Homo sapiens: one gene and its partners. The protein of the gene in region 5 purifies or fractionates together with the protein of the main gene of each other region. This does not show direct contact. Each region holds a gene or a part of one and is shown on either strand. Other genes may lie near its edges. The genes, in order: STK3, ACAD11, CUL2, INSR, PTPN14, AMOT and WWP1.

Region 1 (4,099 bases), on a different chromosome or scaffold from region 5:
ATGTTGCTGCCTGATCGTTCCTCTGGAAGTTTTGTCTCAGAGGAGTACCGGGCTGTGTGAGGTGTCAGTCTGCCCCTACTTGGGGCTGCCTCCCAGTTAGGCTACTTGGGGGTCAGTGACCCACTTGAGGAGGCAGTCTGTCTGTTCTCAGATCTCCAGCTGTGTGCTGGGAGAACCACTACTCTCTTCAAAGATGTCAGACAGGGACATTTAAGTCTGCAGACGTTTCTGCTGCCTTGTTTGGCTATGCCCTGCCCCCAGAGGTGGAGTCTACAGAGGTAGGCCAGCCTCCTTGAGCTGTGGTGGGCTGCACCCAGTTTGAGCTTCCTGGCTGCTTTGTTTACCTACTCAAGCCTGGGCAATGGCAGGCGCCCCTCCCCCAGCCTCGCTGCCGCATTGCAGTTTGATCTCACACTGTTGTGCTAGCAGTGAGCGAGGCTCCATGGGTGTAGGACCCTCCAAGCCAGGCGCGGGATATAATCTCCTGGTGTGCCGTTTGCTAAGACCATTGGAAAAGCACAGTATTAGGGTGGGAGTGACCTGATTTTCCAGGTGCCATCTGTCACCCCTTTCTTTGACTAGGAAAGGGAATTCCCTGACCCCTTGCACTTCCCAGGTGAGGTGATGCCCCGCCCTGCTTCAGCTCATGCTCAGTGCACTGTACCCACTGTCTTGCACCCACTTTCCGATACTCCCCAGTGAGATGAATCTGGTACCTCAGTTGGAAATGCAGAAATCATGTGTCTTCTGCAATGCTCACGCTGGGAGCTTTAGACTGGAGCTGTTCCTATTCAGCCGTCTTGTCTCCATCCCTATTTATTAGTTCTAATAGGTTTTTTTTGTGGAATCTTTAGAATTTTCTACATATATGATCATATCATCTGTGAACAGAGATAATTTTACTTCTTTTTTTCCAGTTTGGATGCCTTTATTTGTTTTTCTTCCCTAATTGCTCTGTCTAGAACCTCCAGTACTATATGTAACAGAAGTATTAGGCTGGTGCAAAAGTAATTTCGGTTTTTGCCATTACTTTAAAAAAAAAATGGCAAAAACTGCGATTACTTTTGCACCAACCTAATAGCATCCTTTCATTGTTCCTGATCTTTGTGGAAAAGCTTTCAGTCTTACTGCTTTGAGTATGACATTTACTTTGGGTTTTTTGTATATGGCTTTTACTATGGTGAGATAGTTTCCTTCTATTCATATTAGTTGTGTGTTTTATGAAAAGAAGTTAAATTTAATCAAATGCTTTTTCTGTTTTCATTTGAAATGATCATGTGGTTTCTTCTCCATTCTGTTAAGGTGGTGTATTGCATTGTTCGATTTTGTATGTTGAATCAACCTTGCATTCCAGGAATACATTCCAGTTGGTCATAGTGTATAACCTGTTACAATCCTGTTGAAGTGAGTGTGCTATATTTTGTTGAGGATTTTTGTATCAATGTTCATAAGGGATATTGGTCTTAGTTGTTTTGTGGTAACTTTGTCTGGCTTTGATATCAGAATAATGCCTCTTAAAATGAGTGTGGAAGTGTTCTCTTTTCTTCAGTGTTTTAGAAAATTTGAGAAGTTGAATCAAGATATTTTAATCTTTTTTTTTCCTTTTTGTGGAGTGTATGTTCCCAGATAGCCATTCACATGGTTGGCCCCATTATATCATTTAGACTTCAGTAAAATGTCTTTTGGGCCTTCTTGAATGTCAATCTAAAGTAGCTTCTCAGTCGTTCTCTATCAGTAGCTCTCTATTGTTGTCCTCATAGCAATTTTCACAGACATTTTCCTGTGTTATCCTATTTTCTATCAAATTATCCCGTTGCTTATAGATAGAATATAAGCTTGAGAGCAGTCCCTAATCATTTAGAATTTTTATGGTTGATTCTGTTACATAGGCATGATTGATTAAGTCTTTGGACATTTGTGCTTAACTAAATCTCTACCCCCTCTCTCCTTGCAGCCCTCCCGTAAGTCAGGGGTCAGGCAGAAATTTCCAAACATCTAATCACTTGGTTGGTTTTTTCGGCAACCAGCTCCCATCCTGAAGCTATCTAGGCTCCCACCAAGAGTCACCTGATCAGTATAAATTCTGGTATGGTTGAAAGGAGCTTATTATGAATGACAAAAGACAGCCCCTCTCACTCTTGTGAGAGGGTGAGAAAACAAAGATAAAATATCTTGATTCAACTTCTCACTCACTCAGTCAATTCACAGGGTCTTAGGAGATTTTGTGCCAAGAACCTACAAAGACCAAATATTTCCTGTGATTTCATAATATCACACTACCTTACAAGGTTGTTTTAAGAATAAATGAGAGAATGCATGCATAACTCTTAGCACATTGCCTGGTACAGATAGCAGTGGCTCTACTGCTACAACTGTTAAGAAGATTTTCTTTCTTTCCCATCCGTCTCTTCCTCGGCCTTCTCTACTCTCCCCTTTTTCCCTCCTCTGATAGTCTTTGCTTGTGTTTCCATTTTCCTAATCTTTCTCTGACGTTTTTTCTTCTGAGTTCTCAATATTAGGTCAGAAGTCCAGAACTTGGAAGGGTTAGGAGTGGCATTGGTGTAGGAGCTTCTCGCAGAAGATTCATTGCAAGCCTCCCTCCCTCATTTACTTTCCTTTATGTAAAGCTGTTGGTTTCATTTTCATCAAGAATCTGAAATATCTCAGGGGAAGTATCTGAATTTACTTTTTCAGAACAGATATTAGCTGTGATAGTGCCCTCCCAGTATTAGAAGATGTGGGAAATCACTATTATGATTCCTTATATCAGGCTGATTCTTGAGATATGTTGTTTGCTTTAGGAATGATACTGATAATTTTTTTTTTTTTTTGAGATGGAGTCTCGCTGTGTCGCCCAGGCTGGCATGCAGTGATGTGATCTCAGCTCACTGCAACCTCTGCCTCCCAGGTTCAAGTGACTCTCCTGCCTCAGCCTCCTGAGTAGCTGGGATTACAAGTGCACGCCATCACGCCTGGCTAATTTTTGTATTTTTAGTAGAGACGAGGTTTCACCATGTGGGCCAGGCTGGTTTTGAACTCCTGACCTCAAGTGATCTGCTCGCCTCAGCCTCCCAAAGTGCTGGGATTACAGGTGTGAGCCACCACGCCCTGCTGATACTGATAATCTTAAAGAGAGAAATTTGATCATCCTTTCATTAGTAAAATGTGTAATAAGAAAGCTTATTGTGGGAAGAAGAGGTTCTCGATTATTTACCCCTTTAGCATTTTCCTGGAGGTTTAGCGGTCATTAGAAAGAAGTACTTGTGGCTAGGCATGGTGGCTCACACCTATAATCCCAACACTTTGGGAAGCTGAGGAAGGAGAATTGTTTGAAGCAAAGAGTTCAAGACCAGCCCGGGCAACATAGCGAGATCCCCATCTCTACAAAAATAAAAATAAGTTAGCCTATTGGGTTGGCATGTGCCTGTAGTTCTAGCTACTCGGGAAGCTGAGGTGGGAGCATGCCTTGAGCCCAGGAATTTTAGGCTGCAGTGAGCTATCATCACACCACTGCACTGTAGCCTGGGCAACAGAGTGGGGTCTCTTAAAAAAAAACACACACACACACACGGAAAGACATACTTGTTACTAGTGCTCTTTCGTAAGATTTTATCTAACGTGGCATTTTAATTATGGTTTTAAAAATATTTCTTTCCAGTTAATAGAAGATGAAATTGCAACCATTCTTAAATCTACATTGAAAGGACTAGAATATTTGCACTTTATGAGAAAAATACACAGAGATATAAAAGCTGGAAATATTCTCCTCAATACAGAAGGACATGCAAAATTGGCAGATTTTGGAGTGGCTGGTCAGTTAACAGTAAGTTAACTTTAATGGTTTTCTAAACACTTGGCTAATTTGTTCAGATTTGATTATAACTAAACTTCAATTACTTTTTGAGGGGGAATGGAAAGAAATGTGTAGTTTTTTAATTTTTGTGGAGAAGGAACCATAATTGAGCCAAATTTGAGTATTATTTAATTTATAATTTAGGGTGATTGAATGTGAAAATATATCTTATAATCAAAATGCTTAAATGTTCTAAAAGGGAAGCTACGTAGCTCATTTCTGTAGCTTTTATCATTGTAGCACTAT
Region 2 (4,099 bases), on a different chromosome or scaffold from region 5:
TTGGCAAAAGCCGCAATTACTTTTGCACCAACCTAATACTTTCCCTTCTTGTTTACTCCATTTGTCAAGGGAAAGTTTTCTGTTTGGCGGATTTTCTTACATGGAATGGTGAGGTTTTATTTAAGTGTTGGATGTGGTTTTCTATATCACATCAATTGAAAAGATAATATGAAAATTATATAATTCAGAGCAATACACTTTCTCCTAGAACATGATCTGTAGGCCTCTATTTGTTTTAAGAAAACCTCAGTACTTTATGAATTCAAGTATTAGATATAAGTTAGAAGCATAAATAACTTTGAACACTGTATGCCATCCTCTTGCTTATTAGAATACTATATCCCTTTCAAAGAACATCTAGAATACCACCTCTTCCAGGAATGTTTTTGTGTTCATCCCATCCATTCACCAGGCCCCTGATACCTGCCAGGCCCTGAGGTTATAATGATGAACAGAAAATCTCTTCTTCCTTTGCCTTTGTTTCTCTCTGTATCTCTTACCCTTACCCACTCTTCTGGATTCTAAACTCCTAGTACAGGGACTATGTGTTATTCCAACTTTGTATCTATTGCAGCATTAATAAAATAGCTTATGCATAGTACATACTTAAGAGACAGTTCTGAAATTTGAAATGTTTAATGGTGGTGGTTTTAAAAACATAGAAATCAAAATTCCCATGAATTCATAGTGAACCTTATTATAGAACTGACTTTTTTTCACTAGAAAGCCATTTTTATTAAGGGCAGCTCATCTCTTTCCCAGGATTTGTATAAATAACAAAAGGAATGGGCTAGGCCATTTTCACATTCCCCCTTTTTTTCCCCTTTCTTCCCAGGTGAAGGTAGGGGATTTGAAATTTCCCAAGGCCGCCTTGGACCTGGCAGAATCCACCACTGTATGAGAACAGTAGGTTTGGCGGAACGCGCTTTGCAGATCATGTGTGAGCGGGCAACACAAAGGATAGCTTTCAAGAAGAAGTTGTATGCACATGTGAGGACGATTACTTATTTGAATTTATTGTAGCCCGGTGCACTACACTAACATTGAACAAAAACATTACTTGTGAGAGACAGACTTTCTCTACATGAACCGGGTGATTCTTTTCAATAAGGCATATTTATGTCTGTATTTAAATATAGTCTAATGAGAGGTATTTATCTTTATGAAAAATTAAATAGTTCCTAAAATGCTTCAACACCTCTGCACACAAGAGTGTAGACAGTTCCTTCAACTTTCTCAGATTCTTGTTCTTTAGAGAACCTGGAACATTAGAGCTCCCTGTGGACATGAAGGAGCTGTCATAAGGAAGAAGGATTTGCCTTGTCCATTGGTTTCCTAGAAGGAATTAGGACACATAAGTGTAAAGTTACAGGAAAACAGCCCAAAACTCAGGGAAAGGAGAAACATGCTAATAAACCTAAAAGTGGAATCAGCTTCTTCAGGAGGACTTGAATTCTGTCACTGGAGAAACACAAGTAGAAATGGGACCAACATTTTGTGAGATATTCATGACTTTTTGAATTATCATCTGTAAATTATATACTACTGAGTCTGTTGTTACAAATCACTGTAAACATAGTTACATGTGGCCCATATAATAAAAATTAGGAAATATGGCCAGGCGCAGTGGCTCACACCTGTAATCCCAGCACTTTGGGAGACCGAGGCGGGTGGGTTGCCTGAGCTCAGGAGTTCAAGACCAGCCTGGGCAACATGGTGAAACCCCGTCTCTACTAAAATACAAAAAAAAACAAAAAAAATTAACCAGGCATGGCGATGTGCACCTGTAGTCCCAGCTACTGGGGAGGCTGAGGCAGGAGTATTGCTTGAACCCGGGAGACAGAGGTTGCGTTCAGCCAAGATCGTGCCACTGCACTCCAGCCTGGCGACAGAGCGAGACTCTGTCTCCAGAAAAAGAAAAAAAATTAGGAAATATGTATTGAGATGAAATAGAAGGTATTATTTCAGACTTCCTTAAAAAGTCTTCTACAGAGAAGTAGGATATCCACATCATCTCCCTTCTAAGTTTTAAGAAGGCAAGAAAAACTATTATTAAATGTTCACTCTTTATTATTGCTAACATGTTAGTGTTAGGTCAAATCTGTGGTGATGGAATTGTATTTGTGTTTGCTGCACATGTATATTTTAGTATGTCGGTCTCCTTATACATTTTTGACCATCTTATGAAATTTGCAGTATGTATTTTTTACCTTAAATTATTATAATCTATGTTTGCTTTTTGTAAAGTATTATTCAGCATTATATGATTTATTTGTATAGTTTTTTAACTGAAAAGCTACAGCCCGCTTTATGACACTACACCTGGGAATAATTTGTCAGGAGCCCTTTTAGTATACAGCGAAGGCAAGTTTTTAGTATACAGCAAAGTTCAGCTGTTGGCTGGGCACTGTGGGAGGAGGTGAGAAAGTGTGACCCTCTGGGGCCCTGGATACAGCCTCTGATGCTGTTGAAGAAGGATGAAGAGGTGCTCAGGGCACCAACCATTACTTCTTACCCTTTTGTCAAGCTTGCATGCAAACTCTGGAGCAGGGTGAAGGGAGGACACAGTAAAGTCGACAAACAAGCATCGCGAATGCACAAAAGCCCTCTGTGCAAGTGCTGCTTTCCTGAGTGGTGTTTTAATACTGCATTAGTAAAAAATTTCCCTTCCACCTTTTAAAGTTAATGTGTCATGCAGAGCAAGCCTGGCTTTTTAACAAATATGCCTGTTTTCACTGGAAACTTTTCACATCTGGCACAAATAACGTGATCTGGCAGAAACAAAAAGATGTGTGAGCATGTCATAAGCAAAAATCTGGGCCAGCTTTTTTATTTTAATTTGTGAAAGGAACATTTCATTTCTTTGAATTTGGAGGCTCCTTCCAGCTGCCTTCTAATTTACTCCAGGCTGTAACGCAAAAAATTCTCCATCCCAGTTCTGTCTTAGGAAATATATTTGGCAGTTCCCTAGAGCACCTAGTTTCTACCCATTTAATGCTTTTCAGCAAATCTAGGGTCTATAGAGACCCAACTGAGAATACCTCCTTTATTCTAAAGCTGAGAAGTAAATGTCTTCTAAGTCTGTTCATGAAGTTATAAAGTTGTAATTATCCTGTTTTACAGCCATCAAAAAATATTTATTCACCACCAGCAACTTGTTTGAAATTAATTCAGAGCCATGTTTCAACCTCTAGGGCAGTGCCATCCAAAAGAAATATACTATGAACCTTAAATGTTATTTTAAATGTTCTAATAGCAACATTTTTAAAAAGTGAAAAGAAAAAGATGGAATTAATTTTAATAATATATTTTATTTAACCCAATATATCAAAAATACTATTTCAACATGAAATCAATATAAAAATTATTAATGAGATACTTTATATTTTAATATTTATTCTTCAATATGGGGTGCATATTTTATACTTATAGTACATCTCAGTTCAGACTAGGTATGTTTCAAATGCTCATTAGCCACATATGGTTAGTAGCTATCATGTTGAACATCACCGCTTTAGGGAAACTCTAATCAAATATCCCCTGTTGAAGGGCAAACATGACCAAGCATAAAAATGGCCAAGGTGTGCATGTTCTCACTCATAAGTGGGGAGATGAACAATAAGAACACATGGACATGGGGAGGGGAACAACACACACCGGGGCCAGTTGGAGGGTGGGGGCAAGGAGAGGGAGAGCATTAGGACAAATAGCTAATGCATGCAGGGCTTACAACCTAGATGACGTGTAGATAAGTGTAGCAAACCACCATGGCACCTGTATACCTATGTAACAAACCTACACATTTTGCACTTGTATCCCGGAACTTAAAATAATAAAGAAGAAAAGAAAGGAAAATAAAAGGACAATTAAACGTCAAAAAAATGGCTAAGATGTAAGGAAGGTGCGCAGTTTCAATCCCCTGCAGATGGCTAGCAAGTTATCCCAGCACCATTTATTGAATAAGGGAGTCCTTTCTCCATTGCTTGTTTTTGTCACCTTTGTCAATGATCAGATGGTTGTAGGTATGTGGCCCCATTTCTGGGCTCTCTGTTACATTGGTCTATGTACCTGTTTTTGTAACAGTACCATGCTGTTTTGG
Region 3 (4,099 bases), on a different chromosome or scaffold from region 5:
TTACCATGCCAACGAAAGAAATGTCTTTATTCAAATGTTTTAAACCTAGAATTTGTTGGACTCATTTTGGAATTATCAGATTATTAGAAAGCTATTGATAGGCTGCTGCTTAGCCATACGGAGGGTGTCCATTGAACAGTTGTTAACTTTCCACAGGAAAATAAGCTCGCCATTTTTAAATAACTGTGTTTTTGTGTAATTGGCATTGATAACGTAGTTTGTTGTCATGGTAGTAGTATTAATCAGTGGTAATATAGACGACTTGCAATTTGCCTCCTTTCCATATCCTCTGAATTTGGTTGTCCAGGAAGCAAATTTAGATTAAAATAATCTTCTGTAAGTATATGCTTGCTGCCCCAAATACCCAAAACAATAACCCTCATATCCCTAATACTCATCTTTCTCGAATACTTTGCCAATCACATGACTGTAACAGTTTGTACTGTAACAGTTTGTCTTTCCCATCACCAAATCTTGTTATTACTGGTAATGTTTGATGAGCAAGAGAGAAATAACTTCAAATGTTACTGTCTCTTCTTAAGTAGAGCTGTTTGCCCTTCATCTATAAGATAGTATCTGTGTATAGACGTCACTGTTCAGGAGCACTTTTTAGAGGCTGTTACCTTAGCTGCAGATTGGTTTTTGGCAAGTAATAATTTTTAGTTTTTATGTTATGCCACAATAATGTGTAAGTTTTCTATTTTTTTATTTCTTCAAATTCCCTTTACCACAGTTTTCTATTTTTTGTAGAACTATTAGTTTATAGTATTCAGGTTTATTACTCTATTATTTGTCAAACTTACTAGTTTACATTATTACGTTTATAGATTCCATGTCCAATGACATTGGGCATAGAAGCATCGAATTTTGTGTCAAGGCTGGGAGATGGAAACATAAGTGAATACATTTGTGGTAGACTCAAATCCAACTGACTTAGTTAAGTCTTAGGTAGTAACTTCTTCATGGTTATCTCCATTAAGAGGGAAAACTCACTTTTGTACTATTAGGTATTTCTTCTCTCTGAGATGTGAGGGATTGTCTTGCCGAGTTCAAGGGGTCTCTGTTCTCAGGATTATTGGCTTTTTAACTCTCCTTTCTCTCAGCCTTTAGTGACTTTGCAGGCAGTCTTTGCTTATTTAAGCCTCTATGAAAGTGATAGACCTGGTAGTTCAGGTCTTGTTATCCTTAAGATAAGTTATTCCAACACAGTAGAAAAGTATGCTTTTGGTGGGTTCTTCTGACAGGTACTAGACAGTCTATGACAGCTTGTTGTGTTGAATGACAAGCTATTTTCTTTCTTCCTTTTTTTTTTTTTTTGTTGTTGTTGTTGTTTTTCTGAGACGGAGTCTCACTCTGTCGCCCAAGCTGGAGTGCAGTGGTGCGATCTCTGCTCACTGCAACCTCCACCTCCCTGGTTCCAGCAGTTCCCCTGCCTCAGCCTCCCGTGTAGCTGGGATTACAGGTGGACGCCACCACGTCTGGCTAATTTTTTTGTATTTTTAGTAGAGACGGGGTTTCACCGTGTTGGCCAGGATGGTCTCGATCTCCTGACCTCATGATCCGCCCGCCTCAGCCTCCCAGAAGTGCTGGGATTACAGGTGTGAGCCACTGTGCCCAGCCTTCAACACCAAAGTTGTAAATTTCTAAGACCGTCTTAGCTAAAACCATTTTCTGAGAAGTGTGCATGTGTGAAACATAATTTCCTTGAGGAAAAATTTACTAATAAGTCTAATAAACCTCATAGTTTGGATATCCTTGAACCTCTTAAAATGTGGTTTTGTACTTATATTTCATTTTTAGATGCCAACACTATTTGTGGAGTCAGTTTTGGAAGTGCATGGTAAATTTGTTCAGCTTATCAACACTGTTTTGAATGGTGATCAGCATTTTATGAGTGCGTTGGATAAGGTAAGTTTTAAATACATATATACTATATATGTACATAAAACTCTATCATTCTTTAGGCAGTTTCAAGATCAGAATTCTAGTATGAGGTTTCTGATGTAGACATGGAGATTAAGTAATTTTGATATGAAATTCAAAATAGAAATAATATAATTTTTAAATTATTAACTGAATAGTTAAATTGAATGCTTGTAGAATGTCCCGTGATTATGCTATATAAGGGGAATTTTTAATCTGATATGTTCTGGATAGACATGCATAATTTTGCAATTTTTAGTACTGATTTTTTTTCTTTGGCCATAATACTTAGGCTATATTGAATAATATTTGAAAAGAGAATAGATATGTTTTACATGAACTTTTGCATACGTTAAAGGAAAGCTGCTTACAAGATTGTAAGTTTTTTTTTAAGTAACGTTATTTTATCTGTTCAAATTTCGATAATGAGTTACAGAATATCTTGGAATAGCAACAGGATATATAGATATTTTGTAATTAGAGAATAAAGTCAGAGGAGTCTACCATGTTAGGCATGAAAATATTAACAAACTACCGGCAATGCTGTGTTTTATGTGGCGGGGTAATTTTTGGATGTACAGATTATGGCTTATATTGAACTAGCTGTACTTTTTCCCTATGGCTGGTGGTTAATTATGGCGTGTTTTTTTATTCAGGCCCTTACGTCAGTTGTAAATTACAGAGAACCTAAGTCTGTTTGCAAAGCACCTGAACTGGTAAGTTTGGTGGTTGCTGAAAAGTAATCTTATGAAAAGTCAGTATTAGAAAATGAGAACTCAGAATATCAAATTAATTTGGTTTTTGTAGCATTTTTCAGAAAAATAGAAGGAAAATTATCTACATTGTATATAGTTTGGCATTTATGTAAGGAATGCAATATACTATGTGTCTTAAAGAATAACCATTTTACAAAGTTTGGGTTTTAATGTATATCTACTTTGAAATAATTTGCAATACTTTTCATGTAGATTCTGTTACATCTGAAATCTAAAGGAAATCTGATGATAAAGTTTGGGTAACCTTTGAAGGAAACTTGCTTACAAGATTTTTGTAACTTTTTTTTAAAGTACTTGTTCAATGTCAAAAATTATAAAACCACTCGAAACTCACCTAGGTGTTCTTTTAAAAATTTGTATTACTTATATCAGTTGCTTTATTGGTCAATAAGTGATGATTTGATATTTGACTTGTTCTTTTTAAAAATTTACCTTATGATGTATATTTTATTTAGTTTACATTTATGATTATTACATAAAGCTTTAGAAGCCTGGTGTGGTTGTGCATGCCTGTAGTCCCAACTACTTGGGAGGCTGAGGCAGGAGGATCCTTTGAGCCTAGGAGTTTGAGGCTGCAGTGAGCTATGATCTTGTCCACTGCAATCCAGCCTGGCAACAGAGCAAGACCCGGTCTCTAAAAAAAACAGCAAAAATTCTGTCCGCTGATCTTACCTTGTATCACCACTTTGCCTCCTTTGAGGCGTGATATATACAGAAGCACCCTTTGTAAGATTTATTATCAATTTCTACATGAGCTTGCTAAGTACTGTGACAACTTACTGAAGAAGTCAGCGAAAGGGATGACAGAGAATGAAGTGGAAGACAGGCTCACGAGCTTCATCACAGTGTTCAAATACATTGATGACAAGGACGTCTTTCAAAAGGTATGTTGTGAACAGAAAAGTTTCATTTGTATTTTGGTCAACTTTATTTCTGAATGCTAAATCATTAGAAAGGAAGTAATCTTTTAAAATATTTTTAAATGTAGTTCTACGCAAGAATGCTGGCAAAACGTTTAATTCATGGGTTATCCATGTCTATGGACTCTGAAGAAGCCATGATCAACAAATTAAAGGTAATGTAAGTCTTTAATGTGGTATTGTCCTAGAAATTCATTCACAAGCACATAAAGATGTTCATTGCAGCATTGTGTACAGTAACAGGAAACAATTCATCTGGTTAAATGTGTATTTGTGTAGTCACACAGTGGGATATACAAATACTGTATTAAAAGGACAAAATGTATATGTTTATATATGAAGATTCACAAGATAATCAGTATTAATGATAAAAGATTATTACTACTTATAAATGAATACACCTAAAATATTCCTTTAAGTACAGATTTTGGAGTGCAATTCCATTTCAATTTATTTTTACATCATTTCAGCTTGCTTACA
Region 4 (4,099 bases), on a different chromosome or scaffold from region 5:
GAAGCCAACCTCGGCCTCATTGAAGAAATTTCAGGGTATCTAAAAATCCGCCGATCCTACGCTCTGGTGTCACTTTCCTTCTTCCGGAAGTTACGTCTGATTCGAGGAGAGACCTTGGAAATTGGGTACGTGGGCCTGATTGTGTGTATGGCCTGAGTGCTAACTAGGAAGTTCGTGTATTAGAACAACTTAAGGATTTTTTTGGCCAGGTGTGGTGGCTGATGCCTGTAATCCCAGCATTTTAGGAGGCCAACGTGGGTGAATCACTTGAGGCGGGGAGTTCAAGACCAGCCTGGCCAACATGGTGAAACCCTGTCTCTACTAAAAGTACAAAAATTAGCCAAGTGTGATAGTGCATGCCTGTAATCCCAGCTACTTGGGAGGCTGAGGCAGGAGAATAGCTTGAACCTGGGAGGCAGAGGTTGCAGTGAGCCAAGATCACACTACTGCACTCCAGCCTGGGTGACAGAGTGAGACTCTGTCCAAAAAAAAAAAAAGAAAAGAAAAGGAAAAACTTAAGGATTTTTTAAAAATCAAATAAAAACAAATAAAAAACAAATAAAAGTATATCTGGCAAAACCTCGGGAAAAAAGAACTTGGAATGTGCCTAAAGGTCCATCCAGCCAAAAATTGTAAAAGCTTTTTTATAGTCATTCTTGAGAAACAAAAGTGGGAGCAGCCCAACCTTGGTGCCCATCCTCCAAGGGTACAGGCTGGAATTTTTGCTAAATTTGCTGTTTGGGCTGCATTGTGAGTAGAGTTTGGCATGCATAAAATGAACATTCCCTCTTAGTCCCGGTTGTCCATCCTAATTTCTGGGATGGACTCCATCTCAGTATATTCCAGTATATTCCAACCTTCTCCTTGAGGTCCTAGAAACTCTATTAGCAAAACAGCAGAAACTCAAACTAGCTAGATCAAGATTGACTCATAGGCAGGAGGTCTGTGGAAGACCCAGATTCTTTCCATCTTTGTGCTCCTCATGGTCACAAGATGGCTGCCTCAGCCCCAGCCTCACATCTGTAGAACAGACAGCAAATGGGGAAAGGGACAAAAGGACATGTTAATCAACATGAGCTGGTAAGTGACTTGAGAAGGTGGTCTAAACAATATAGTTTAGACTATATTATCTGTACTCCAGCCTAGGCACCAGAGTGAGAATCCATCTCAATAAAACAAACAAACAAACAAACAAAAACCTTCAATGGCTCCTTTCTCCTTATTAAGGATGGCCACATGTTCTTGGTCTTGGTCTGGCATGCAATATACTAGAGGGTCTGGTCCATTGCAACTACAGCTATTTCCTGTCACCTATTGGCCAAAACAGGCTACTTTGCTCTTCCCTGAACTCAGCTTAGGTGCCTCTGTGTTATCAGTATTTCCCCTATTTGCAGAAATTGGTTTCTGCAAAACCTATTCCTCAGTCCATCACAGACTCACCACCCCTCTTCAAGACTGAGCTGAGCCTCCTTCCTGGCCATGAAAACTTCCTCAACTTCCTCTGTTATCCACATTCAACAAATATGTGTTGAGTATGTGCCAAGCAAGTGGAGAGGATTAGGCACGTAGCACTGAACAAGATCAACTCCGAGCATGGCCACACCATCTTGGAGTTGTAGAAGACCAGCCGTTGAATGACTAGATGTGTGTGTTTTTTCCATAGGAACTACTCCTTCTATGCCTTGGACAACCAGAACCTAAGGCAGCTCTGGGACTGGAGCAAACACAACCTCACCATCACTCAGGGGAAACTCTTCTTCCACTATAACCCCAAACTCTGCTTGTCAGAAATCCACAAGATGGAAGAAGTTTCAGGAACCAAGGGGCGCCAGGAGAGAAACGACATTGCCCTGAAGACCAATGGGGACCAGGCATCCTGTAAGTCACTGGTCCCCAACCTTTTTGGCATGAGGGACCGGTGTAGTGGAAGATGGTTTTTCCATGGACTGGTGGTGGGTGGGGATGGTTTCAGCATGATTCAAGTGCATTACATTTACTATGCACTTTATTCCTATTATGATTACATTGTAATATATAATGAAAGAATTGTACAACTCACCATCATGTAGAATCAATGGGAACCCTGAGCTTGTGTTCCTGCAACTAGATGGTCCCAGCTGGGGGTGATGGGAGACAGTGACAGATCATCAGGCATTAGATTTTCATAAGGAGTGTGCAGTCTAGGTACCTCATGTACACAGTTCACAATAGGGTTCACACCCCTGTGAGAATCTAATGCCGCCGCTAATCTGACAGGAGGCAGAACTCAGGTGGTCATGCAAGCGATGGGGAGTGACTGTAAATACAGATGAAGCTTCACTTGCTCACCTATCACTCACCTCCTGCTGTACAGCCCTGTTCGTAACAGGCCATGGATAAGTACTGGTCTGTGGCCCAGGGGCTGGGGACCCCTGCTGTAAGTGGTCCACAAACCAGATAATGTGGCTGTCCTCTCTCATCCATCACAGTCACCCCCAGGGGGTATTACTTCCCTCTAACAACTCACTGTGTGATAGGCTTTCTTACTGAGGGCAGATTCTGCACATTTATTAATATTATCACTATGCTTACTGTGCCATATAGTACCGGATACGGGATGAAGTCATACAAGCACTGAATGAATGGATGAATGAATGATGGATGAATGGATGACACCTTCTTATATGTGTATCAGGCTGATGCTGAAGACTTCAAAGTTGAGTAAAATACCTATGTCAGTCTGCATCTCCTGGGAAGTGACTGCCAAGTTGAAGTTAGGAGTGCAGAAAATGTATTGAGGGTAATATTCATAAAATATGAAACAGAGGAAGAGCTTCTTTTTTTTTTTTTTTTTTTTTTGGGACAGAGTCTTGCTCTGTCACCCAGGGCTGGAGTGCAGTGGCGTGATCTTGCCTCACTGCAACCTCCTTCCCCTGGGTTCAGGTAATTATCTCGCCTCAGCCTCCAGAATAGCTGGGATTACAGGCACATGCCACCAAGCCCGGCTAATTTTTTTTTTTGTATTTTTAGTAGAGACAGGGTTTTGCCATGTTGGCCAGGGTGGTCTTGAACTCCTGACCTCAGGTGATCCTCCCGCCTCGGCCTCCCAAAGTGCTGAGATTACAGGTGTGAGTCACCACGCTCAGCCATGAAGAGCCTTTTGACAATAGCGTGTGTCTGACCTCTGTGAACAGAGAGCGGGAAGGAGGGAGGATAGGGCTGGGAGAGTCTCAGATGGTGATGCATCCCTGAGTCTTGGCCAAACCCAGAAAGAGATCAAGGCCACGGTTGTCTGCAGGGAAGTTCTGCATTGCAAAGGGACGGCCAGGCATCTACCAAGCTCAGTCATAGGTGGGGGCTGTCCAGGGAGAGTCAGGTTTTGGCTGGAATGCTACAGCAGGTCCTGCAGTTTCTGCAGCTGCAGGCTGCCTGCTGACTGCACTTCCCTGACAGATTCTAAACAGTGAGCTGCCAAGGGCTTCTGGGATACCTTCATGGGGAGTTAGTTACTTATGTCAAAATGTAGTGCAAGGGCTGGGCATGGTGGCTCACGCCTGGAATCCCAGCACTCTGGGAGGCCGAGGCAGGCAGATCACTTGAGGTCAGGAGTTCGAGACCAGCCTGGCCAATGTGGTGAAACTCCATCTCTACTAAAAAAAAAAAATACAAAAACTAGCTGGACGTGGTGGTGGGTGCCTGTAATCCCAGCTACTTGAGAGGCTGAGGCATGAGAATTGCTTAAACCCGGTAGGTGGACTGCACTCCAGCCTTGGTGACAGAGCAAGACTGTCTCAAAAAAAATGTAGTGCAAGGAGAGAGAGCGAGGTTGGGGTGAGGTTTAGGAGAGGGTTTGTCTTCTAGGCAGAGAGAATTACTTAGATGCGTCTCTCCGATGTCTAATGATCTGCAGGGTCTCTAAACTCACTTGGCATAGGTTTATTTGCACTGGAGTTGCACCTCCTTCCAGGTCAGTCTTACAAGTCCATATGCGAGACAACGTTGTGTCAGGACAAACATCACCCTTGGAAATCCCTTCCTCCAATAACTATTGGCCGGTTGTCCTTCTTGCGCGGGTACAGACTGCGCTTATTCAGTTGACTGTCTGGCTGAGTCAAGTCAT
Region 5 (4,099 bases):
TCCGCCTCAATTAAAAAAAGAAAAAGAAAAGGAGATGCCGTGAGATGCATAGAGGGAGTAGTTACTATTAGGTACCAATACAAGCTAGATATTGTGTGTGGAATCTTCTTTACAATTTTTCTGCGAGGGGGAAAAGACATTAGGCAACTGAGTATTCTATCTGACCAAAGGCAATATTTACATACAAGAGACAAAGCTTTACTTGAGCTAAATTTAAGAAGAAAAATAAAAGGAATGTTGGGTAATACGGTAGATGCCACTTTCAAATAGAGCTTTTCATGTAATGGAGAGAAGGTGGATTCAAAGGATGTTTCCTCTATCAGTCATACTAATAAAGTTCCTTACGCTGTAACTCAATAAAGACTTCTGGCGGGCAGTAAACAATTTGGCTCAGGTACTCTGCATCCAGGTAATCTAATTTAAACATGGGCAAAAATCTTTTAAAACCTAGGAGAAACAGATTCAACATTTCTAATGCCCTGCACAGAATACGTGTATTGACTTTCCTAAAAGCATAATACATACATTTACATTCTTTAAAAATACTATGTATTGGCCGGGCGCGGTGGCTCACGCTTGTAATCCCAGCACTTTGGGAGGCCGAGGCAGGCGGATCACGAGGTCAGGAGATGGAGACCCCGTCTCTACTAAAAATACAAAAAATTAGCCAGGCGTGGTGGTGGGCGCCTGTAGTCCCAGCTACTCGGAGAGGCTGAGGCAGGAGAATGGCGTGAACTCGGGAGGCGGAGTTTGCAGTGAGCCGAGATCTTGCCACTGTACTCCAGCCTGGGTGACAGAGTGAGACTCCATCTCAAAAAAAAAAAAAAAAATACTATGTCTTTTTTGGTAATTTAGACAGGCTTTCCTTAATTGGTTCTGATTTAAAAGACTATACTTTAAAGTGCCTTATAAGCTCACTCTTTCATCAGAGCTGTTAGCCAATCAACAAACTGATCTATTTATATTATTTCCCTTTTTTGCTTCTTGGAGAAAATTTTAATAAGTCAATTAGCACGTGATCAGGTGAAAGAAATACAATGAGCACTGTTAGGAGGAAAAGAAGTTCTGTAAAGGTCACTGCCCTTATTTCAAGCTACAGATAACAAGCCATTTGACTTCAGGCAAATCACGAGTCCTCTCTGGATCTTACTCTAGATTCTCTGACTCCAATCATCCTTCTACTCTCTGCTTTCAGTGCCAAACCCCTCAAGTACCATCGTCACTTTCAAGGAAATGAAATGCTTGTATTGCTGGATAAGTACACATCGGAATATTTATTGGAACTTGTAAATCAGTATTTTTAGGTCTTGAGAACCTGTTCTCTCCCTCTGTCATTCCCCTTTTCTCCCATTCTAAATGAATACCAAAATAAAATCAAGGTTTTGACATGATCCAACATCTGGATCATGGTCCCTCCATGGTGGTCACAGGTCTTCCACTAGCTGGAGAGTCAACAACAGAGCAGGCACAAGGCTACAGGGAGCATCTGGGGCTCCTTTCCAGGTGGGTGAGTAAAGAACGGGGTCTCCTGACAAGCACAGGACAGTTAGATGAGCATGTGGAAAGCAAGAGGGAGAGCTGCAGCCACCGCTGAAAAGCAGAGGAGGGTATCAGATCTCATCTTTGGACGATGATGACTGGCCTGTCTTTCCCATTAGGCTCTGAGTACGTCGGAAGTGAAGACTGAACTCAGTGTCATCTCTGCATTCTCAGAGCCCGATCCAGTGCCTGGCACGTAGTGGGTACATGCCCAATTTTGGGTCTTTCAAATAAAAATACTGCACATAATCTGGTGAATTAGTTTCTAATATAACCACATTCTAAAAGTACACATACACAGAAATTAATGAATTAGCCATTGAGCAAATTTCAGTTTCAAAAACTACAAGAGGGTTTCAATACTTCTTAGTGTCTTCATAAAAATATGAGAAAGTACGAGAAAGTACTGAGATGCTCAACTGTAGGGAAATATAGGTCTTGTGAGATGCAAACCTTCATGAAAACAATTTTTTTAATGTTATTCGTTTTTATTTATTTATTTATTTATTTATTTTTGAGATGGAGTTTTGCTCTTGTTGCCCAGACTGAAGTGCAATGATGCAATCTTGGTTCACTCCGCCTCCCAGGTTCAAGCAATTTTCCTGCCTCAGCCTCTCCAGTAGCTGGGATTACAGACATGCGCCACCACACCTGGCTAATTTTGTATTTTTAGTAGAGATGGGGTTTCACCATGTTGGCCACGCTGGTCTCAAACTCCTCACCTCGGGTGATCCGCCCACCTCGGCCTCCCAAAGTGCTGGGATTATAGGTGTGAGCCACCATGCCCGGCCTATTTTTAAGTTTTATTTCTCCTTTTTTTTAAAATGTGCTAAAGTGGACACAACATAAAACTTACCAGTTTAACCATTTTTAAGTACACAGTTCAGTGGCATTAAGCATAGTCATAGTTGTGCAACCATCACCATCATCCATGTCCAGTACTTTTTCCCTGTCCCAAACAGAAATGTTGCACCCATCAAATGTAATTCCTGGCTGGGCACAGTGGCTCACACCTGTAATCCCTGCAATTTGGGAGGCTGATGCGGGCAGATCACTTGAGACCAGGAGTTCAAGACTAGCCTGGCGAACATGGTGAAACCTCATCTCCACTAAAAATACAAAAATTAGCTAGATGTGGTGGCTGTGCCTATAGTCCCAGCTACTTGGGAGGCTGAGGCAGGAGAATTGCTTGAATCTGAGAGGCGGAGGTTGCAGTGAGCTGAGATTGTGCCACTGCACTCCAGCCTGGGTGACAGAGCGAGACTCCGCCTCAGAAAAAAATTTGTAATTTCCCAATCCCCCTTTGCCCCAGCCCCTGGTAACCTCTCACCTACTTTCTGTCTCTGACCTTGCCTATTCTAGGAACCTCATATAAGTGGAATCACATAGTTTTTGTCCTTTTGTGACTGGATTATTTCCACTCAGCATCATTCCTCAAAGTTCATCCTTGTTGTAACATGTGTCAGAATAGTTACTGATTAAATGAGTAGCTAAAGGTCTGAATCAAGGTAGAGCCAATATGTTGATCACAGTCTTAGCTTACGTGCATGAAAGGTAAACAGAATAAGTGACATGTATTATTATACTCTGTTCTACATAGTAAGAAAGGAATATATATTTCAATATTATAATACTTTTGCCACTTAAGAGAAAGCATCCTCTTTTTCCATTTCATCTCCAACAGATGAATTATTGACACAGATCATAAAAGTCAGTCAGGTAGCAGACTGGGAAGAAAAACACTTACATAAAAATCCTTGGACATCTTCTGGACAGCCGTGATCTGGCCAGTCAGTATATTGTAAATGCCACACCGTCCTTTCTTGCCCAGACAAAAGGTGCTTGACCTTCAAGCCCGTGGTTGCATAGCAAACAGAATCCGTTCGAAACTTCGTGGTGACCTTGAACTTGCCATAGGTGGCTGAGCTGTGCTTTGAACCTAGTTTGGGCCAGTATCGGTGGCTTTTGGTTCGTCCACCCTCCTAAATCACATATAAAAGCAAAATTGGAAATAGGTCAAGGGAAGCTCTCATCCTTTTAATCCTAAGATATGAAGACAGAAGAAAATGCAAATAGCTTCTAAATCGCTAGTTCAGTAGCACTCTGCAGTGTCTACCACAGGGTAGATCCTATACATGCTAGTTAAGACCAATAACACAATTTACAATGACAGTTACATCAATGGAAAATTTAAAAGATTCACAACCGAGGTGCAGTAGAATGTTAGAGAGAAGTGCAAGTGCAGTCTAGAAGCAGGAACAAGCTTCGTGCATTCAAGAAACAAAGGTCAGCCGGGCGTGGCGGCTCACGCCTGTAATCGCAGCACTTTGGGAGGCCAAGGCGCGTGGATCACAAGGTCAGGAGATCGAGACCATCCTGGCTAACATGGTGAAACCCCATCTCTACTAAAAATACAAACAATTAGCCAGGCGCGGTGGCGGGTGCCTGTAGTCCCAGCTGCTGGGGAGGCTGAGGCAGGAGAATGGCATAAACCCGGGAGGCGGAGCTTGCAGTGAGCCAAGATCACGCCACTGCACCCCAGCCTGGGCAACAGAGGGGA
Region 6 (4,099 bases), on a different chromosome or scaffold from region 5:
CATTCACTTACCCATTCTTCAATTATTAAGACATGTAAATTGCTTCCAATTTTATGCTAATCTAAATAATGTTACAAAAACATCTTTGTGATTTAACCTTTTTCAATATTGTAGATTGTTTCTTCATGATAGAATCCCAGAAGTGAAACTGATGGGTCAAGAAGCATAAATGTTTTTAGACAACCCACTAAAAAATAAAATTAGCAAAACACCAGAGTCCCATGAAATCCCTCCCTCATTTAATGAAAAATTCTCCCGCTCTCATTTTTCCACCAGGGCAGAGCAGGGCTCCTGGGAGGGAAAGAAGCCAAGAGAAGCAGTGTAGTATCCCAGTGGCTTGCGAAATGGCAGAGTGGAATGCGGGCTCCCCTGTGAATCCAGCTTGCATGCACTTGCCCCAAATTGCCACCCAGCCAAGAAGCTAATTAGTAAAAGCATCAGGTGGGTGAAAACAGGTTCATGGCCTGTAATAGCTTATATCATCTTTCATTTTTGCCCTTGGAAAGATCTGACAGTCAGCTTGAAGACATTCAGTTCTTGTGACCCAACCTGCTTACATTCTGAGAATTGAATTTGTCAGTTTTTAGATCCCAATCTTCAATATATCTTAAGGGACATTTTGCTGTATAGAACTAAGCAGGCATGATCAATGAGCCTGTGTGTGTAGCTCTATTTTCAGCCTCAGTTAAGGTGGCACATTTAAGGTCAGCCCTGTTTAATACTAGATGACTAAGTGACACCTGTCTTAAATGGTCAATGTATTATAGACAGAGGTTGATTTGCAGACCTGACCATAAAAATCATCCGGTCCTAAAGCAGGGGAGGCAATAGGTCAGAGATGCCCCTGGTTTAACAACAGTGGACACAACAGGCATTCCTTCCGTGACTTCTTAGCCAGAACTCTCAAAATAAGGCAGTTCTGCTGTCCATCTTCTCTTTGAAGATTTTTCCCTAATCCCTCTCCATCTATTCCTGACCTCAACTCTGCTCAACATGGAAAATGAATTCTCTATGATGACACTTATCACAGCAAATTTTCCATAAACTTTTACTGAGCACTTACTGTAGCCAGACATTGTGCTAGGTAAGGCCTAGGGTGGCAATAAATAAATAAATAAATAAATAAATAAATAAATAAATAAATAAAAAGAGAGCCCAGTACTTGAGGAGCTCCCAGTCAGGCAGAGGAGGCCCAATTCAACGGGAAAACAGAGGTATGAGCTAATAGCTCCGGCAACACATAGGGCTCTGCAAAAAACCCTGGGCTACCTGAAAAAGCTCCCAAGAGGAGGAAAATATCAAAAACCTATAAGCTGAGTAGAAGACATGGAGTGTGATGACCAATTTGACATCAAAGATAGGTTGAGATATATCTTTGGGAGTCATTAGCATATGGATGACAGCTAAGGTCATAAGAGAGGGCTGGACCATATTGACTAGGAACAGAACAGAACCCAGGATGAAACTAAACATGGACTTCTGGGGAAAAAAAAAAAAAGATCATTCAAGGGTTAGGTACTTTGCAAATGTGGGAGGGAAAGAAATTCCTTTATTTATCCCGATGGCCTTTCCTCCCATATATCTCCAAGCTAGACCTTGCAATACACAGCTCCAGGGACAGAAATCCCCAGCTGTAGTGTGGAGAGAAAAAAAGAAGTTAACTCTCACCTTTTAAGCTTCTGAGTGCCCTGGTAGCAATCACTATTACGGGTTGAGCCAGAAATGGAAAGGGAAGTTGCTAGACTGTAAGATCTTAGAGGGCATGGGCGGGGTGCGTGATTTTTCATTGTATGCATCCCAATACCTAAAACATTAACTGGTACATAAAATGTGCTTAATAGTTGCATACTGAGTGAATGATAACTTCCCCAAAACTTTGCTAGAGGCCACAGCAGGAGAAGAAAACAAAGAAAGACATGGAATAACAATAATAATAATGTTATTATTACCTTTAGTTTCTCAGCCTTCCTTCTAAGGAGACAAAAGCTCTTTCACTCTGCTATCTTATTTGTCCTTCTTAGCAGCTCTGTGGGGAAATAAAGGCAGATGTGATTAATTCCATTTTAGAACTGGAGAGGGAAGCTCAAGTCCAGAACAGATAGCTAATCATAACTAATTGGACCAGAATTTCACTGTTGCCCATTGGTAGGGCCAGCATTGGAACCCAGGTCTTGCGACTTCCTGCCCTGTGCTTGGTTCTAAGACATAACCCTCCACAGAATTGCCCCTCCAGTTTTTAAGAGGACAGTTCACAAGAGAAATTCATTAGGAAAGCAAACTCCTGAAACACTCTAACAGTATCTTGAGCAAGTGAGTGAGCTGCATCTAAAAGAAAGTAATCTGTTTCCCCACGCCAACACTGGGATGACTAAACCCAGTTCCCAGTGGGGCTCTACTAACATAATTGAGAGCTCCCTGTTTCGCTGTGCCCCTTTTCAAGGGAGCCCCATCTGCCTTCAGTCTGGTTTTTGTGTCTGAGTGGGGCTCAGGTGCTGACTGCAGGTGTGGCATCCAGCAGGTGTATGGACAGGAGCCAGCATTTCATATCTTCATACCAAAGGGCCTGAGTCACTCTCTGAAGGCAGAAGGCAGCCCCTCCTCCTCCTGCTGTTGCCTTGCAAGCACAGGGAACCTGCCTTGCCTGAGGTGCCACTGCAGAACTGAATCTAAACCCTGCCTTCCCAAGAAGGACTAAGGTGAGATTAAACCACAAATCATATAACCCAGCTAACTTTCTTATTTGCACAAACTACTGCAGGCATACACCTACACCGTGGGCACAGCATATGGGAACCTAGGTACAGAATGACCGTCACCTAAAGTGATGCGGGGAAAGGAGGGCCACAACTGGCCCATATTTTACATTTGGCTATAAAGCATTGACTCTACTGCAAATGGCCCTAAAATCTCAGAAGCAAGTACTCACCCCCCTAAAAAAAGGTGGAGTACAGTAAAAAGAACCTGCTAGAAATCTTGCACTCCTGTTCTCACCATAACCTCTTTCCTTCAGGCTTCCAAGGGAGAACCACTTAGCCTGGTCACAGAAAGCACCAGGTCAGAAAATTCATCATGTTCCCCTAACCAAAGCCCAACTGGTCCCAGCCTGAGGCAGACAGAATGTTCCTGGGAGTAAAGGGGGGGGGGGGGTCATCAAAATTTTCTTAGCTTCAAAAACTGTTTGCTTTTTAAAAAAACAATCTGCCTCCCCTACTCTCTCTCTCAGGCACACACACATAGACCAAAGAGAAACTAATTGTAGAAGAAAAAAATGAAATCTTACCTTAATAAAATGGTTTGTTGTCATTTGTTCTATTTCCCTAATTCATACGGGAAATTCAAATAAGCTTTGGTTTATAGCCCATGATCCAGAAAGCAAAACTGGCTACCACACTAAAATGTGATCATTGTATATAAACATAGTAAAACAAAACTCTGAACTGAAAATCTAAATGTAATAAAGAGGAATTAGGTTTCTTCAAAACAGGCAATCTAAATAATTTTCCCCATCTGTGATTTTTATCTTAGTTTGCTATCACATGGAACAAATGTCACTAATTCAATGCAAATACATGCCCCTTGAAAACAACCAAAATGAGTAAGGGATGTACTAATTAGCTTCCTAATGGGGAAGGTTTTAATTGAGCTATTCTTTAACAATCTTCATCAAAGTTTCCAGGGCAACTTCATAAAAGGATGTCAAACCTGGCCCATATTTTTATTCCCTTAAAAATAATTTTCAATACACAGAAACACAGAAAGCTGATTTCTCTTCAATGCTGTTAACACTCAGGCCACTACATTTTCTGATGTCAGCAATCCCCTTCCCACAAATATTCCAAGTATGCACCACCGTCATTCTCCTTTCAATTATGTGGTTTCTCTGCTCCTTTACTGATTGAGTCCAGGCCTCTCGGATAATGAGAAGCATGTGCAGGGAAAATATGCTCTTAAAAAACACATACATCAGTTTTATCTGCATTATAAAGAGGAGAGCAGATCGTTTGTCCATATCAAAAAGATTGAAATGTGAAGTTTGCTATGGGGTATATATAAGGGGAAAAAAAGATCAGTATCAATGCCTAAGGTTGATAGGGGGGCG
Region 7 (4,099 bases), on a different chromosome or scaffold from region 5:
GGAGACCCTGGAGGTAGAAAGACCTCCCAGTTGTTGTAGTCATGGATAGTGAGGATCTGAGCTGTGGTGCACGCGAATGGAAAGGAAGAAAGGAAGTCGAATAGCCAAAATTTGATGAGAGGGCAAATGAAAGTAAAAATAACTGATTCTGATCCAGGTTGGTTGGGAGAACAGTGGTACCATTTTGAGCAAGATCATGAAGCTTTACCCTCAGCATATGTGTGCTACTTTACAACTTTTTGGAGATTACTAATTCTTGGTAAAATGCTGGCCTGGAAAATTTCCATATGCGCCTATGCTTTGTGGATATAATTTTAGGGGAGTCCATGGAACACCTGAAAGTCATCCATGACACTCATCTCAGAATTTCTTGGAGCTTTTTTTATTTTCGAGGCAGGATTTCTTTCACTCCTGTCCCTGTGGCTGGAGTGCAGTGGCGCCTTCTGGGCTCATTGCAACCTCCGCCTCCCAGGCTCAAGAGATTCTCCTGCCTCAGTCTCCCGAATAGCTTGAACTACAGGCGCTTGCCACCACACCCGGCTAATTTTTGTATTTTTTTTTTAGAGATGGGGTCTCACTATTTTGCCCAGGCTCGTGTTGAACTCCTGAGCTCAAGTGATCAGCTTGCCTTGGCCTTCCTAAGTGCTGGGATTACAGCGTAAGCCACCCTGCCGGGCCTACTGGGAGCTTTTTAAAACAGTAGAACCTTCAGGTTCTTCTGTGTACTGATAAGAACTCTTACTGTAGAGATATGCTGTATATATACAGAAACACAATATTACATTTGTGTTGTGGTTTACAGTTTACAGAGAATTTTGACTAATGTTATTTGCTATTATATTACACAATAAACTATTCCTGGAGTTTAAATGATTTGCCTGAAGCATCATTCAGCTGGTGGGTAAAGTGGAATCAGGAGATTGTTGACAATGATGGTGTTCTTTCATGTATGAAGATAATGCAGTGGCTTTACCATCAATTAAATATAGTTACTGCCTTTAAATGACCTTGTCAGTAAGACTAGATGATCCCACAAGATTCCTTCTAGTTTTTAACATTTTGTGATTCTCGAGTCCTAGACTTTCATCAGAGTATCTACTCTCCTTGTTTAATATGTGCATGAGAGCTGGTGAGTCTGAGGGATGAATTGGGTAGAGAAGAGCAGTTAGCAATATCAGATCATTCATTTGGATTGTTACTTTCTTTGTATGTCTCACTTTGGGCTGGGGAGTAGGGAGGAGAGAGGTGATGTAAGTGAAATAAGAAACTTTAAGAACTTTATTGGGAGGCTGAGGCAGGAGGATGGTGTGAACCCGGGAGGCGGAGCTTGTAGTGAGCCGAGATTGCGCCACTACACTCCAGCCTGGGCAACAGAGCGAGACTCTGTCTCAAAAAAAAAGAACTTTATCTTCTCTGTTCATTTATACCTTCAGAATATTCTTTTCTTTCAGGAAGCCTTTATCAAATAAAAATGGAGACTTCACAATGTAAATGAAGATTCCTACTCAATTTTTTTTGGGTGGATTAAGTAGCTAGCTAGTACGGTTAAAGTGTAGTGCGATTGGTAAACAGTTGACTTTTCTGCACCTGTAAGATTATCTCCCTGGTAATAGGTAATCATAGCATGTTATTACATGTTAATAAACTTTGATTTCATAATTATTAGAAAGACTGTTGTTTTTTACTCTTTGTATAAAAATATGATACAATTATAATGAGCATTGGAAAATCCAATAAATTGCCCTTTATAGTGGTATCCAAGGAACTAGTTACTAATACTTAATGGAGGAAAAATGATAAAAACATACACAGATGAATTTTATTGTTTTTGCTGGCATTAAGAATTGTACTATACCTTATGTTAGTATAGCATTTCACATTTGTAAATAATAACTATATTTATCATTTGGTTCTCATGACAACTGATAAGTTGGTGTGTTAGGAAGTAATAACTGCTTTATATTTTATTTTATTTTATTTTATTTATTTATTTTTGAGACAGGGTCTTGCTCTGTTGCCCAGGCTGGAGTTCAGTGGCACAGTCATGGCTAAACTGAAGCCTAGACCTCAGCCTCCCAAGTACTTGGGACTACAGGTGTATGTCATGACACCCAGCTAAATTTTTAAAATTTTTTATAGAGATGGGGTCTTGCTGTGTTTCCTCAGGCTGGCCTCGAACTCCTGGACTCGTGGCCCTCCCACCATGGCCTTCCAAAGTGCTGGAATTACAGGCGTGAGCCATCGCTTCCAGCCAATCATTGCTTTTTGGATGAATATGCTGAGGCTAAAAAAAAAGTTTAAAAAGTTAAATTTCCAAAGTATGTGGCTAGTTAGTGGCCACAATTAGAACTACAACTAAAACCCTTATTTTTGTTCCTATGTCAGTATTCTTTTCCCACCAGACTTCTTACTCTTCATGTACAATGGAACATCATTAGTTAAGAGCTGTATGTGAAGGATTTGAATTTACCTGTTTGGAATGTGTTAAACTTTTGTACCGTGTAGAGGTAAACTTGTCAGTTTTTTCCTTTGTGTTAAAATGGTAATCTCACTGCAGTGGCTATTGGTAGGTGATATTTAAATTTGTAAGCATTGTACCACAGAATAGTTATTCTCCTGTCAAGGATAAAGCAAAAGTTGATTTCTTATCTGGAAAAGTACATTGGTGAAATGTAGATATTTATTTTTTTGAAAATTTTGAATTTAATTCTGTTGCTTTTACAGATGAAGTTTGTGTTTCCCTTTTATAAAAGCTTAGTCTTCAAAAATTTACATTTTTTGAGGATATAAATGAGGATCTAATTTCCAAAATATATATAGATTGGGTATCCCTAATTCAAAGTTTGAAATGCTCCAAAATGGGAAACTTTGAGCCACCTACATTACTCAACAGAAACATTCACTGGAGTATTTCAGATTTTGGATATTTGGATTAGGGATACTCAACCTGTATCATGATATTTTATTATTTTTGTATTAGATCATAAGCTCTACCATTGAAAAAAACCCAAAGATATTAAAAAGCCCTCCTTAGTGGATGCTTCAATTCATACATTTAAACAACTTTTTTAGGGAATGTATAATGTAAAACCATACGTCAGATGGTTTTTAAGTTATAAGGAAGACTAGCATGGTTTTTAAGTTATAAGGAAGAGTAGCATTTGTTGATTTAGTCTTGACATTTCTTTTTTCTTTTTTTTTTTGAGACGGAGTTTCCCTCTTGCTGCCCAGGCTGGAGTGCAATGGCGCAATCTTGGCTCACTGCAGCTTCCGCCTCCTGGGTTCAAGAGATTCTCCTGCCTCAGCCTCCCAAGTAGTTGGGATTGCAGGCATGCACCACCACACCTGGCTAATTTTGTATTTTTAGTAGAGACGGGGTTTCTCCATGTTGGTCAGGCTGGTCTTGAACTCCAGACCACAGGTGATCTGCCCGCCTCAGCCTCCCAAAGTATTGGGATTACAGGCATGAGCCACCACGCCTGGCCGTCTTGACATTTCTTAAATCTACAGTTCACTCACAGCACATACTGGCGTACCTACTATGTGCCAGACATATTTCTAGGTGCTGGGAGTACAGTGTTGAGATGACAGATATGAAGCCTTTCCTCTTGGAACCTGGAGTTTAGTGGAATCACTAACATTAACAAGGGCATAGAACTTTATCTTCTCAGGTTGTAATTTTGCGGAGTGTAATTAATTATACCTCTCCTTTTTCTGGGGTTTGAACAAATTATGCAGAACACACAAGGAACCAGGTGAGTGTTGTTTCAGTTATGTACTGCTGTGTAGCAAACAGCCCTAAACCAAGTGACTTAAAACAACCATTTTCTTTGTTACAGTTTTGCTTTCCTGGGTTGGGCTCAGTTGGGCAGGTTTTGCTGGTGATCACTCTAATGGCTGCTTTTCTCTCCAAGTAGCCTTTCCAGCAGAGTTGCTGGCCTTACCTGGTAGCTGATGGCTTAGGGCTCACAAGAGTACAAAACAGAAGCAACCAGATCTTTTTTTTTGAGAGGGAGTCTCACTCTGTCACCCAGGCTGGAGTGCAGTGGCTCAGTCTTGGCTCACTGCAACCTCCACCTCCCAGGTTCAAGCAATTCTC

The links.
Region 1: the proteins of PTPN14 (region 5) and STK3 purify together in Homo sapiens (affinity purification with mass spectrometry, with the first as the bait; 2 studies listed by BioGRID). This does not show direct contact.
Region 2: the proteins of PTPN14 (region 5) and ACAD11 purify together in Homo sapiens (affinity purification with mass spectrometry; 2 studies listed by BioGRID and IntAct, with this or other methods). This does not show direct contact.
Region 3: the proteins of PTPN14 (region 5) and CUL2 purify together in Homo sapiens (affinity purification with mass spectrometry; 2 studies listed by BioGRID, with this or other methods). This does not show direct contact.
Region 4: the proteins of PTPN14 (region 5) and INSR purify together in Homo sapiens (co-immunoprecipitation; one large-scale study listed by IntAct). This does not show direct contact.
Region 6: the proteins of PTPN14 (region 5) and AMOT purify together in Homo sapiens (affinity purification with mass spectrometry, with the first as the bait; 2 studies listed by BioGRID). This does not show direct contact.
Region 7: the proteins of PTPN14 (region 5) and WWP1 purify together in Homo sapiens (affinity purification with mass spectrometry; 3 studies listed by BioGRID). This does not show direct contact.

The regions. Positions count from the first base shown.
Region 1 is NC_000008.11:98,706,871-98,710,969, reverse strand, and holds part of STK3 (serine/threonine-protein kinase 3), read left to right. Parts: intron 1-3,658; coding exon 3,659-3,823; intron 3,824-4,099. UniProt on the Homo sapiens protein: Stress-activated, pro-apoptotic kinase which, following caspase-cleavage, enters the nucleus and induces chromatin condensation followed by internucleosomal DNA fragmentation.
Region 2 is NC_000003.12:132,572,663-132,576,761, reverse strand, and holds part of ACAD11 (acyl-CoA dehydrogenase family member 11), read left to right. Parts: intron 1-835; coding exon 836-990; intron 991-4,099. UniProt on the Homo sapiens protein: Acyl-CoA dehydrogenase, that exhibits maximal activity towards saturated C22-CoA.
Region 3 is NC_000010.11:35,030,975-35,035,073, reverse strand, and holds part of CUL2 (cullin-2), read left to right. Parts: intron 1-1,800; coding exon 1,801-1,908; intron 1,909-2,579; coding exon 2,580-2,639; intron 2,640-3,454; coding exon 3,455-3,583; intron 3,584-3,687; coding exon 3,688-3,774; intron 3,775-4,099.
Region 4 is NC_000019.10:7,168,316-7,172,414, reverse strand, and holds part of INSR (insulin receptor isoform Long preproprotein), read left to right. Parts: coding exon 1-125; intron 126-1,663; coding exon 1,664-1,878; intron 1,879-4,099. UniProt on the Homo sapiens protein: Receptor tyrosine kinase which mediates the pleiotropic actions of insulin.
Region 5 is NC_000001.11:214,366,171-214,370,269, forward strand, and holds part of PTPN14 (tyrosine-protein phosphatase non-receptor type 14), read right to left. Parts: intron 3,522-4,099; coding exon 3,287-3,521; intron 1-3,286. UniProt on the Homo sapiens protein: Protein tyrosine phosphatase which may play a role in the regulation of lymphangiogenesis, cell-cell adhesion, cell-matrix adhesion, cell migration, cell growth and also regulates TGF-beta gene expression, thereby modulating epithelial-mesenchymal transition.
Region 6 is NC_000023.11:112,830,345-112,834,443, forward strand, and holds part of AMOT (angiomotin), read right to left. Parts: exon of another isoform or gene 3,281-4,099; intron 2,027-3,280; 5' UTR 1,950-2,026; intron 1-1,949.
Region 7 is NC_000008.11:86,345,033-86,349,131, forward strand, and holds part of WWP1 (NEDD4-like E3 ubiquitin-protein ligase WWP1), read left to right. Parts: intron 1-4,099. UniProt on the Homo sapiens protein: E3 ubiquitin-protein ligase which accepts ubiquitin from an E2 ubiquitin-conjugating enzyme in the form of a thioester and then directly transfers the ubiquitin to targeted substrates.